Regions from separate parts of the Homo sapiens genome. Here region 2 is linked to region 1. Evidence: fine-mapped expression QTL. A gene starts in region 1. The other region holds a variant in brackets. All regions are shown on one strand. Distances are between the middles of the regions. Region 1 holds the start of NRG1 (neuregulin 1). Region 2 overlaps NRG1 (neuregulin 1).

Region 1 (5,381 bases):
TTGTTCTGGTCAGTTCCAAGGTTTTTTACAAATGCAAAAGAAATTCATTTGCTACTCCTGACCACAGAGATGAATAATTTAAGGACAATATCAAATTCTTGATAAATCTCATAAATGTTTTAACTGTCCAAGAAATGGACATTTATTTGGTTAATCTTTTAGCTGGCCATAAATAATGTAATAAAACCCCTTAAAATTAACATTAAATAACATAAAGACCTAACGATTTTTAGAAAAAAACCTTTTTGGACTGAGCCTTGAATTTCCTGAGAATTCAGCTACAAGTGATAACTAAAATGTAACTCGAGAATCTGGATATGGTTCCAGAAAGGATTGTTGTCATGCAATTGCCATTTCATCATCTTTCCTTAAAGTCCCTTCAATATTTATCATTGCAATTTTTGTCCTGTCTTTTCCCCTCCATCACATCAAACCAAGGAAAAACAATTATTAAATGCTCATTTATACTCACCTCCCTCCCTTCATATTCATTCATTCCTCAGCCCTAAAATTCCTGTAGGAATCCTGCTTTTACGTTTTATCTTAAAGCCACCATAGTATCTGTAATCTCTTTTGTAGTCATGTATGCTTAATTTTGGAAGACTGTCAACTACCTCTTCAGGTTCATTCAAATGAAAATGTATCACAAAATCGTAGGCTCTTCCCCTATCTCACTGAAAAATTACTCTAAAAATGACCAGTAAGCTGTTTTGTTGAAGCAAAACATCCAGACCCTAAACAAAAGTAGCAGAATTACAACATTTCCATAGAAATGGATTTTGAGCTTCTTTTTTTTAATTGGGGAAAATCTTATTTTTTAAAAAAGAATCCCAGAATACATCTTTGCTTTCAGTCCTTCAATTCTAACATAATGCCATGTTAGAGAATATGTGGTAGTGTATACTAAGCCCTTATGCTGTCTCACATCCTTGGGACAAAATATCTGTTTTGAAAGGACTTCTCTGAATTTTGCTATTTCCTGCTTACTGAGCAGTGGCCCCCTCCTGGGAAAACAGAGTTATTTCAGCCAGTGTTCAGACTCCATCTTGCATACGTCTCTGTGGAATATTAATAGTGCTACTGAGATATATTCATCATCTTTTCTCTGCTTTTGCTGTCTTTATAGCCCAGTGAAATTTATATTTGGTGTTTGTAGGAAGGCTATCAGAAGCTACTTGGACATCAAACTTTTAAACTATAAATAATGATGGCAAGACTGCTAGGATATCTTTCCACAGTTAAACCCATTCAACAGAGTTTCGTTCTTATGACAGTGCAAATTAAACTAGAATAAAATTAGTGTGATTTTAGGACAGTTTTAAAGTGAACATATTTCCCTCCCTCCCTTCCCATCTACATATCAAGGAGACACTCCAGACTGCACTTTTATTTAAATTGCGGCCATCAGAAAATACCGTGAGAAGGTAGTGTGTAGGTAATGGTTCAGTTAGCATTGACCCCAGAAAATGGAAAACCAAGAGCAAGTCACTTTTAAAGTGAAGCAATAGATTTTGAATATGGATTGTTCCAACTCACCACTTCCCGACCACAACACAAGAGTATTTCACTGTAAATTAAGAGTCTAAGTTAACCACAGCTGTGGTATAACTCTGAGAATGTTTTCTCTACATGTAGACAATTCTGGATCCTTCCGTGGTGCCCGTTACCCTGGTCTTTAACTTTTGTCCTTTGCAGGGGAGGGGTCAATGCCTTCTTATTTCCTTGCTCTTTAGAATTCTCCACCAGAGGGAGGACAAGGGAAGGAGTAGGTTTCACGCGCAGTTCTGAGTAAAGTTTGAATCTGAGAAACCCCACATTCACGAATTAAGGATCTCCAGTTCTGTGTCTTTATTCTACCCCTCCCTGCCTGCTTTTCCACTCGGCAGAACTGAGTGACTTTCAGCGGCTGCAGTAATTTTAATTATTCTGAGTCGTGCTCCGAACTATGTTTTTTATCAGTTCCTCTGAAAATTAAGTTGTAGTAAGAGACGTAGTTTAAGGGCACCCCCTTAGAAGAGGCCAGGTTATTTTTTAAGGAAAAGCTGAAGATTTCTAACAGGCACTTACTAAACACACACACACACACACACACACACACACACACACGCACACGGCGCAGACCCAGCAGGAGAGCGCAACCTAGCATCTTTAAGGTTCGCTTAGCCCTTCCTGTGCACCTGGAAGGAAGCCTTATCTTAAACTCCCTTCCACCTAGAGTTTATTTTCGCCTGCGTGCGACAGGGCTTTTGTACTTAAGTGAGTTAAGGAATGAACCCCGAACTCTTCTGGGAAAGCCACCAACGTTCCCCCCGCACCCCTCCCAGGGTTCCTGACCACGGAGACTCTGCTTGGGGCACAGGTGTGGGAGTCGCAAACTTTTCTCTGCGCCGTCCTTTTCCGCGTGGAATGGGACGGAGCAGCCCTCCCAGGCGCTGCCTGGCTGCGGAGGGGAGCGGGCAGCGAGAGCCTCGGGTCTCCGCCTGGGTTCCCGGGTCTCCGGGGCGCTGGCCTCGGTCTCCGCGCAGCGTCCAGCGACCCCTGTCGGGGGTTCCCGGCAGCCGCGCCGCCACCCCCCGCCCGGCCAGCGCGGGAGGAAAAGGGGCTGCGCCCGGGAGCGCCGAGCCCAGGCTCCTCCCGGTGGCGTGTCCGCGCCTCGGGGTGGGGGTGTGGTGGGGAAGAGGGAGGGGGCGAGGCCAGGGGAGGGTGCGAAGGAGGCGCCTGCCTCCAACCTGCGGGCGGGAGGTGGGTGGCTGCGGGGCAATTGAAAAAGAGCCGGCGAGGAGTTCCCCGAAACTTGTTGGAACTCCGGGCTCGCGCGGAGGCCAGGAGCTGAGCGGCGGCGGCTGCCGGACGATGGGAGCGTGAGCAGGACGGTGATAACCTCTCCCCGATCGGGTTGCGAGGGCGCCGGGCAGAGGCCAGGACGCGAGCCGCCAGCGGTGGGACCCATCGACGACTTCCCGGGGCGACAGGAGCAGCCCCGAGAGCCAGGGCGAGCGCCCGTTCCAGGTGGCCGGACCGCCCGCCGCGTCCGCGCCGCGCTCCCTGCAGGCAACGGGAGACGCCCCCGCGCAGCGCGAGCGCCTCAGCGCGGCCGCTCGCTCTCCCCCTCGAGGGACAAACTTTTCCCAAACCCGATCCGAGCCCTTGGACCAAACTCGCCTGCGCCGAGAGCCGTCCGCGTAGAGCGCTCCGTCTCCGGCGAGATGTCCGAGCGCAAAGAAGGCAGAGGCAAAGGGAAGGGCAAGAAGAAGGAGCGAGGCTCCGGCAAGAAGCCGGAGTCCGCGGCGGGCAGCCAGAGCCCAGGTGGGTGCGCAGCGCGGCCCGGGCCCCACGATCCTCCTCCTGCTCCTCCTACTCCTCCTCCTCCTCGGATGCCGTGGCCTCTCCCTCCCCCTCTCCCTCGCCCGTCCTCTTCGCCCTGCGCTCTGAGCGCCCGTTGAGTCGCGCGGTGCTTCCCCTCCTGGGGGCCGCCGCTCACCTGGGCGCCGAGTCCTACCGGGCGCCTACGCCCAGAGCTCAGGGCAAGGGACAGCAGTCCCGGCCGCACCCTCCCAGAGTCCCGGGAGCGCTTCGCTCCCTGGCACGGCCCCTCCCCAGCGCCTTAGCGGCTGAGCCCAGCCCGGGAGTGGGACCTGGGCTATAGGAGTCGAGGCTGCGTGCGCGCGTGCCCCGCGCCATAAGCGCTTTGCACGGGGGCCGTGTGCCCTCTAGCGGGAAACGCTGGAATGGGCCGCCTGGAGGGAGAGCCGGTCCCCTCGGTGTGCCTGGCAGCGCAGAAGTGGGTGGTCGAGCAAGAGGCCGCGTGGGAAGTTAGCTTCGGCGTTTTGGGGCACAGGGCAAGCGATGTAGAGTGCGCGCCGGTTCATCTTGATTCAGTCCTGTGCTACGGAGACTCAAGAGCAGCGGCAGGGATTCCTAAAGGTCAGCGAAGCAGATGAAATCTAGTCCAGTGTCAGGAATCAGCTCTGCCCCAAACAAGTTCTACAAACTTTTGGCTTAACAGTTCTATTTTTCAAGACCTCTGTGATAAATATGGATAATTTACTTTCCCAAGAGATGTAAGAAAACAACCGTTTATCTGAATTTTTGAACCCAATTGTTTGCTGGTTATCTATATAATAAAATGGCAATTGAAGCTTTCTAGAAACAAATCTTGTATTTCATCATCAGAACACGAGCATGAACAAAAGCTTTACCTTAGATGTCCCTAGGAAGCGCTGATGCTTTGGACATTACCTTGGACAAAAGAGGCATGTCGAATAAATACTTGTTTATGAGTGATTGGTAGGTAGCTGATAAAAGAGGGGAGGAAGGAGATGGGGGAGAATTTATTTTTTGCCTCTGCAATTCCCAATTATTAATTGATCCAGATGCCTTAAGTCGCTTCGAGCGTACCCCCAACACACATTTCATGAAGCACTTCTGCAGAATTAATTCACTAGTACTTGATAATACTGTGGCTACAGTAATACTGTAGAAGTATTTGTCCCTTGCTGGAAGAAAACAAACCACATTTGCTTGGTCTTCTTACTGGTATCACTGATAGCATTTCAGAACCTGGGTTATTGGCAGAGACCTTCAGCAGAGTTTTGAGCAAAACAGAAATTGAACAGAGAGTAATTGTTTCACCACTGGCCATTCTTGTGCTTGCTTCTTTAATAAGATCCTGCTGATCATATTCACTTCAATTACTGATCATTGCCCCTCATGAGGGTGTATTGAATTTTCCCTTATTTTTACCCTATATTTTGGGGAGAGACCATAGCACTTTATTCAACAAGATAGGAAATTGGGGAGCTGGATTAGTTACCTCCCTGCGTGACTTTGTCTACTGTCCTTTCTAAGGTCATCATAGTACATTACGGAGATTTCAGACCTAGCTCAAATCGTTGTAAAGAGTTATTTTGGGGGCTCTTATCACTGTTTGTGGTTGTGTTCTCCTGTCTCCCTGCTCATTGGCTTCAGAAGAAGTTTCTGTGGTCCTCTGTAGATGGTCTAATGAATTAAGAAGGGGCCAGCGGTCTGAAGTAGCATCCTGTTCAGGTAATAGGTGTGCATTTTGTCAAGGGCTCCCAGCAGCAGTACCGTAACACAGCAACTTGACAAGTTCAGTGGGGGAGGGGCAGGCATTTCTGTGCCCTCCAGATCTCATCTACTAGGTAGGCAGCTGTCTTGTGATTAGCTACGCTCTCTTGACACAGAGCACCAGAGCTTCCTTGGTGGCTCTCATCTGCTTTCCAGTGGTACAGCAGTGATTCCCTGTAAACCAGCTAAGTCAGTATCTTTAAGTGACATTTGCTTAACTGTCTTCCCTGAAAAATTGGGGTGAATTTGGCTGTAGGTTAGTTTTTAGTATATTTGTCTCTGTTTTCCACCAG
Region 2 (5,381 bases), 27 kb after region 1:
ATATCCTATCCCCACTTGCAAACAATGTTTTGCCTGAACCGAGTAATGGCAACATTTATCGTAAGTATATCTTAGCTTCTTCTCCTTATCTGAATGGGGTTCTAGTTCCCTTAGCATTCTCAGATAACATTCTGAATATTCTACTCTGTATATCCAGTTTGTTCATAGACCTCAAAATGCAGACCCTGCATGGATTATTCCCATTCTGCTGTCTGTCTTTATGAAACCTGCCAATACTTATTGCTAGATGAAATTCTACAGATGTTCCATGATGACTTATTGACTCGATAACAGGGATCTGCAAACATTTCTGTAGAGACCCAACTCTGCAGTTGTAGCACAAAAGTAGCCACAGACAATTTATGAGCAAATGAATGCAAGTGTGCTCCAATAAAACTTTATTTACAAAAACAGATGGTAGGCAGGATTTGGCTTATGAGCCGTATTTTGCTGACCTCTGCTCTATAATATTCCTTGAAGAGATACTATTATCCCAATATCCTGACATAAAATATATATCCTTACCATTTGCTGTAGCAATATTCAATTTTTCTTTACCTGGCGTTGCTTATGTTCTCCAGCCAGTTCTGTCTTTTCATTAGGAATCTGAGTTAGGATTTCTTAGAACTATGTATTTGGGTAAGTTTATCAAAGGCCTTTTTATTTTTATTTTTTATTTTATTATTATTATACTTTAAGTTTTAGGGTACATGTGCACAATGTGCAGGTTTGTTACATATGTATACATGTGCCGTGTTGGTGTGCTGCACCCATTAACTCGTCATTTAGCATTAGGTATATCTCCTAATGCTATCCCTCCCCGCTCCTCCCACCCCACAACAGTCCCCGGTATGTGAAATTCCCCTTCCTGTGCCCATGTGTTCTCATTGTTCAATTCCCACCTATGAGTGAGAACATGCAGTGTTTGGTTTTTTGTCCTTGCGATAGTTTGCTGAGAATGATGATTTCCAGCTTCATCCATGTCCCTACAAAGGACATGAACTCATCATTTTTTATGGCTGCATAGTATTCCATGGTGTGTATGTGCCACATTTTCTTAATCCAGTCTATCATTGTTGGACATTTGGGTTGGTGCCAAGTCTTTGCTATTGTGAATAGTGCTGCAATAAACATACATGTGCGTGTGTCTTTATAGCAGCATGACCTTTTAAAGATCTTAGGAGCATAATGCTGTAACCTCTCAAATTTAAACAGGATAGAAGATTTTATACATTACTAATCTGGTTGGGTAGATGCAATTATTCAAATTCCAAGTGGGTGAGACATTCCGTAATTATGTCTCTAATTTTACATTCTCCAGGCCTCATTTCCCTCTCTCATTTCATCAGGTCTTCAAAAGGCTTTTAATAAACTTACCCAAATATATAATTCTAAGAAATCTCAAATTCAGTGCTTGATCAGATCACTGTGTGGTATAGTTTGTATATTTTTCCCCACCCAAATCTCATGTTGAATTGTAATCTCCAATATTGGGGGTGGGGTCTGGTAGGAGGTGACTGGATCATGGGGGTGGATTTCTCATGAATGGTTTAGCACCATTCCTTGGTGCTGTCCTCATGATAATGACTAAGATCTGGTCATTTTAAAGTGTGTGGTCTCTCTCTCTTTCTCTTGCTTGCTCGCTCCTGCTTTCACCATGTGATGTCCCCCACTACTCCTTTGCCTTCCGTCATGATTGAAAGCTCCCTGAGGCTTCACCAGAAGCCTGGCAGATGCCAGCATCAGGCTTCTTGTAAAGCCTGTAGAACTGTGGGCCAGTTAAACCTCTTTTCTTGATAAATTACCCAGTCTCAGTTATTTTTTACAGCAATGCAAGAATGGCCTAACACAATGTGTAATCTTTGTTTCATAGAGTTTACACTACAGCTTTGCCACCTAACTCTCCTATGTTAGTACATAGAATTTCTGAACCTTCAATCCTGTTCAGAATGCCAGATTGTGAGAGAATCAGTTATGCTTCAACCTTGAAAGCATGGAGTTCTCTGCTTTCAGGGAACTCCAGATGACTCAGGAACAGAAGTAAACCCTAGACAAATCTAAAGCCAAACATAGAATAAAGCTGAACAGCAGATCATAAATCCCATTCCTTGCTCCCTAGGAATACCTCTTCTTCTAACTCCAGCTTCAGATTTTTCCCCAGGTTTCACAATTGACCTTTGTCTTAGTGTCCATACTGGTTGGACATACCCCTCTGGCATAGACATTCATGATAGGCATTGCCATTCTTCATGATATGTCATTCTTGGCTACTTCCTCTTTTTCTAGGATGCATGTTTTA[G/T]CTCACTTCATGTTCAATTGCCTTGTGGTTGGCCTACTTCTTCTTTCTCTTCTTTCCTACTTTTGTGGTTGCTTTATAGTTGACTAATTACTAGTTCATCGGCTCTGCTTATTGCCTAATACTATAAAAGTTCCCTTCCTGGAAGGGTTGGGGATGGGAAAGTGGGGGTGGGTGGTAGTAAAATTAACTAAACTTTGTAGTGGGCTGGAGATAGGGCATGAGTAAAGGAAAAGTTGTATTTTAGGACTGCTCAACTGCATGGATATTTATACTTTTTAAGACAAGCAACATTAACAAAGTCTGGATCTTAAAGTAGAGATCTACACTGGAGATAATAATATCCCTGTGGGCATTTAATGCTCATGGTTACCTAGAAAATAAGTATAAAGTAGGAAATTTTGAGAGAGTATTCTTGTAAAGATTAAATGGTGACACCAATGTAAGGCTTGAATGTTCTAATAAGGGTGAAACTTGGTCTGGGAATGGCAGTTCTTACACCTTTTATAATTCTTAACTGTTATTTTTTAGATCTGGTCATTTAAATCTGAGGACCCAGATATGCTAGTCTTATAGAAAGCACAAATTTAAAATGGGTTCTTTGTCTTACATAGCTCTAAAGTTTAGGAAAAAAGTATCTTCAAGCAACCTTCATAGGAATTCTCCAAAATAAATGTGTTCCTGATTAATATGTGTTTTATTTTTTAAAATTTATTTTTAATTAATTTTTAAATTGACAAAATTGTATGTATTTATGGTATACAACGTGATGTTTTGAAATATGCATACACTGTGGAATGGCTAAAGCAAGCTATTTAGCATACGTGTCATCATCTCACATACCATTTGTTTGTGGTGAGGACATTTAAAATCTACTCTCTTAGCAATTTTCAAATAATGTAATTATTTTAAATCAGTTGTTTAAATATTATGAAATTACTTTCAGCCCTTAGAGAATAGTCCATCTCACATGACACATAAAAATGGAAGGAGGTGTCTAGCTCAGGAGAAACTTTTTGGAATATTTGATTCTCTTTCCCTCATTTTCTCTTCTTTTTTTGTTTTTTAAAAAATAATTTTTAAACCCTGTATTGACTCCTGGCTATTATTTTGAATATGAGTGCTAACAATTTGAGCCTTGTAGATAACTATCCCAATGCCAATTGAACCATAATTTTCATTTGTCTCTTTCTACAAGATTCTGAATTTTTTCAGAAGTGAAATTAAGTCTCAATTCCCTATAATTTACCCAGGGCAATAAATCTTAAACATTTTTTCTTAAAAAAACAAAACAAAACATTTTTACTGGAAAGACTTTATGGGGTGGACATTAACTCTGTAAATGCCATATAACTTTTGGAGAGGGCTGCCCCTGGCACAGTGTAATATTTATGAGAAAGTTGTGCCCATACTAACCACCTGTATGAGAATCGCCTGCGATGCTTTTGTTTAAAAGGCAGATTCTTTTTTCCCTATATTTTTCTCTTTTTAAAAAAATAATTTCGACTTATATTTTATATTTATATTTATATTATTTTAAAAAATAATTTCAACTTATATTTTATATTCAACCTACGTATGCAAGTTTGTCATATGAGTGATATTGCGTGGTGCTGAGGTTTAGGGTACGAATGATCCCATCACCCAGATACTGAGCATAGTACCCAATAGTTGGTTTTTCAACTCCTGTTCCCTCCTTCCCTCCCTGCTCTAGTAGTCCCCAGTGTCTGTTTTTGCCATCTTTATGTCTATGAGTATTTGATGTTTAGCTCCTACTTATAAGTGAGAGCATGGAGTATTTGGTTTTCTGTTCCTGCATTAATTCGCTTAGGATAATGGCCTCCAGCTGCATCCCTGTTGCTACACAGGATGCAGTTTCATTCCTTTTTATGGCTACATGATATTCCACAGTGTGTATATACTACATTTCCTCAATGCAGTCCACCACTGATGGGCACCTAGGTTGATTCCATGTAAAAGAGCATATTGTTAGGCTTTTCTCTGAATTACTGAATCAGAGTCTTTCAATGGGTTCCATGAATATTTCATATTCATTTTAGTAAACTTGCTCAAGTGACTTATGTATACAGTTATAGGTTTGGGAACCTCTGGCCTGGGGAAGTTGTCTGCAACACCACTGACAGGTCCCTGTCCTGCCACAGACATTTCTGCTGTAACTCCATGCTTGCATTTTTTGGGAAAAACAAAGCAAGACAAAACAAAACTCATTTTGCAAAATGACACACAAAATAAAGAGGCTTCTGGAAAAAGTAGGGCTAGGTGAAGAGAATTCAAAACTTACGAAACTATAAACTGAACACCAACAAGAATAACAATGAACCTAATAAAAAACTAGCATAGTTATGGCTCTAACAACATTTATTCTCAACAACTTAGTTAAATCGTTGTACCCTTAAACCTTAACACTTTTTTTTTTTGTTTTTCGAGACCTTGGTTCTTGAGGACATTTTCTTCTAGCAGAAATCAGTATTAACTTCTTTATCCATCTCTCTCTTTTTTTTAAACTGTTATGTACCATCATTATAGCACTTCTTACAAAAATGAGGAGCTGTCTTTGTAACTTCATCTGTGCCATCAGCTTTTCCAGATAGTTTAACATAAAAGGAAGATGAAGTGGTTCTGGAAGCAAGAAAACCAGCCACCACTTGCAGTAAGGAAGGCAGGTCTATGGGCCTATTAGCTCATGGAGGTTTTTGTTTGCTTGTTTGTTTGTTTTTGAGATGGAGTCTCACACAGTCGCCTGGTCTGGAGTGCAGTGGCTCCATCTGAGCTCACGGCAACCTCTCCCTCCCAGGTTCAAGCGATTCTCTAGCCTCAGCCTCCTGAGTAGCTGGGATTACAGGCACCTGCCACCACGCCCGGATAATTTTTTGTATTTTTAGTAGAGACAAGATTTCAGTATGTTGGCCAGGCTGGTCTGGAATGCCTGACCTCGTGATCCACCCGCCTCAGCCTTCCAAAGTGCTGAGATCACAGGCATGAGCCACCGTGCCCGGCCAGATCTTTTTAAATAAGATCTTCATGTGTTATAATACTAAGGTTGTCTCTTTAATCACAAAAAGCC

The links. PIP is the estimated chance that this variant, and not a neighbour inherited with it, causes the effect.
Region 2: its variant is fine-mapped to the expression of NRG1 in whole blood (INTERVAL, PIP above 0.99).

The regions. Positions count from the first base shown.
Region 1 is chr8:32,545,521-32,550,901 of GRCh38, forward strand. NRG1 (neuregulin 1) reads left to right here and starts at 2,791. Exons shown (of 12, transcript NM_013964.5): 1 at 2,791-3,306. The coding sequence starts at 3,207.
Region 2 is chr8:32,572,979-32,578,359 of GRCh38, forward strand. The region is part of intron 1 of NRG1 (neuregulin 1); the gene reads left to right. Among named protein-coding and RNA genes, the nearest start is that of NRG1, 27 kb to the left of the region's middle. The variant G/T (reference allele first, on the strand shown) is at 2,300.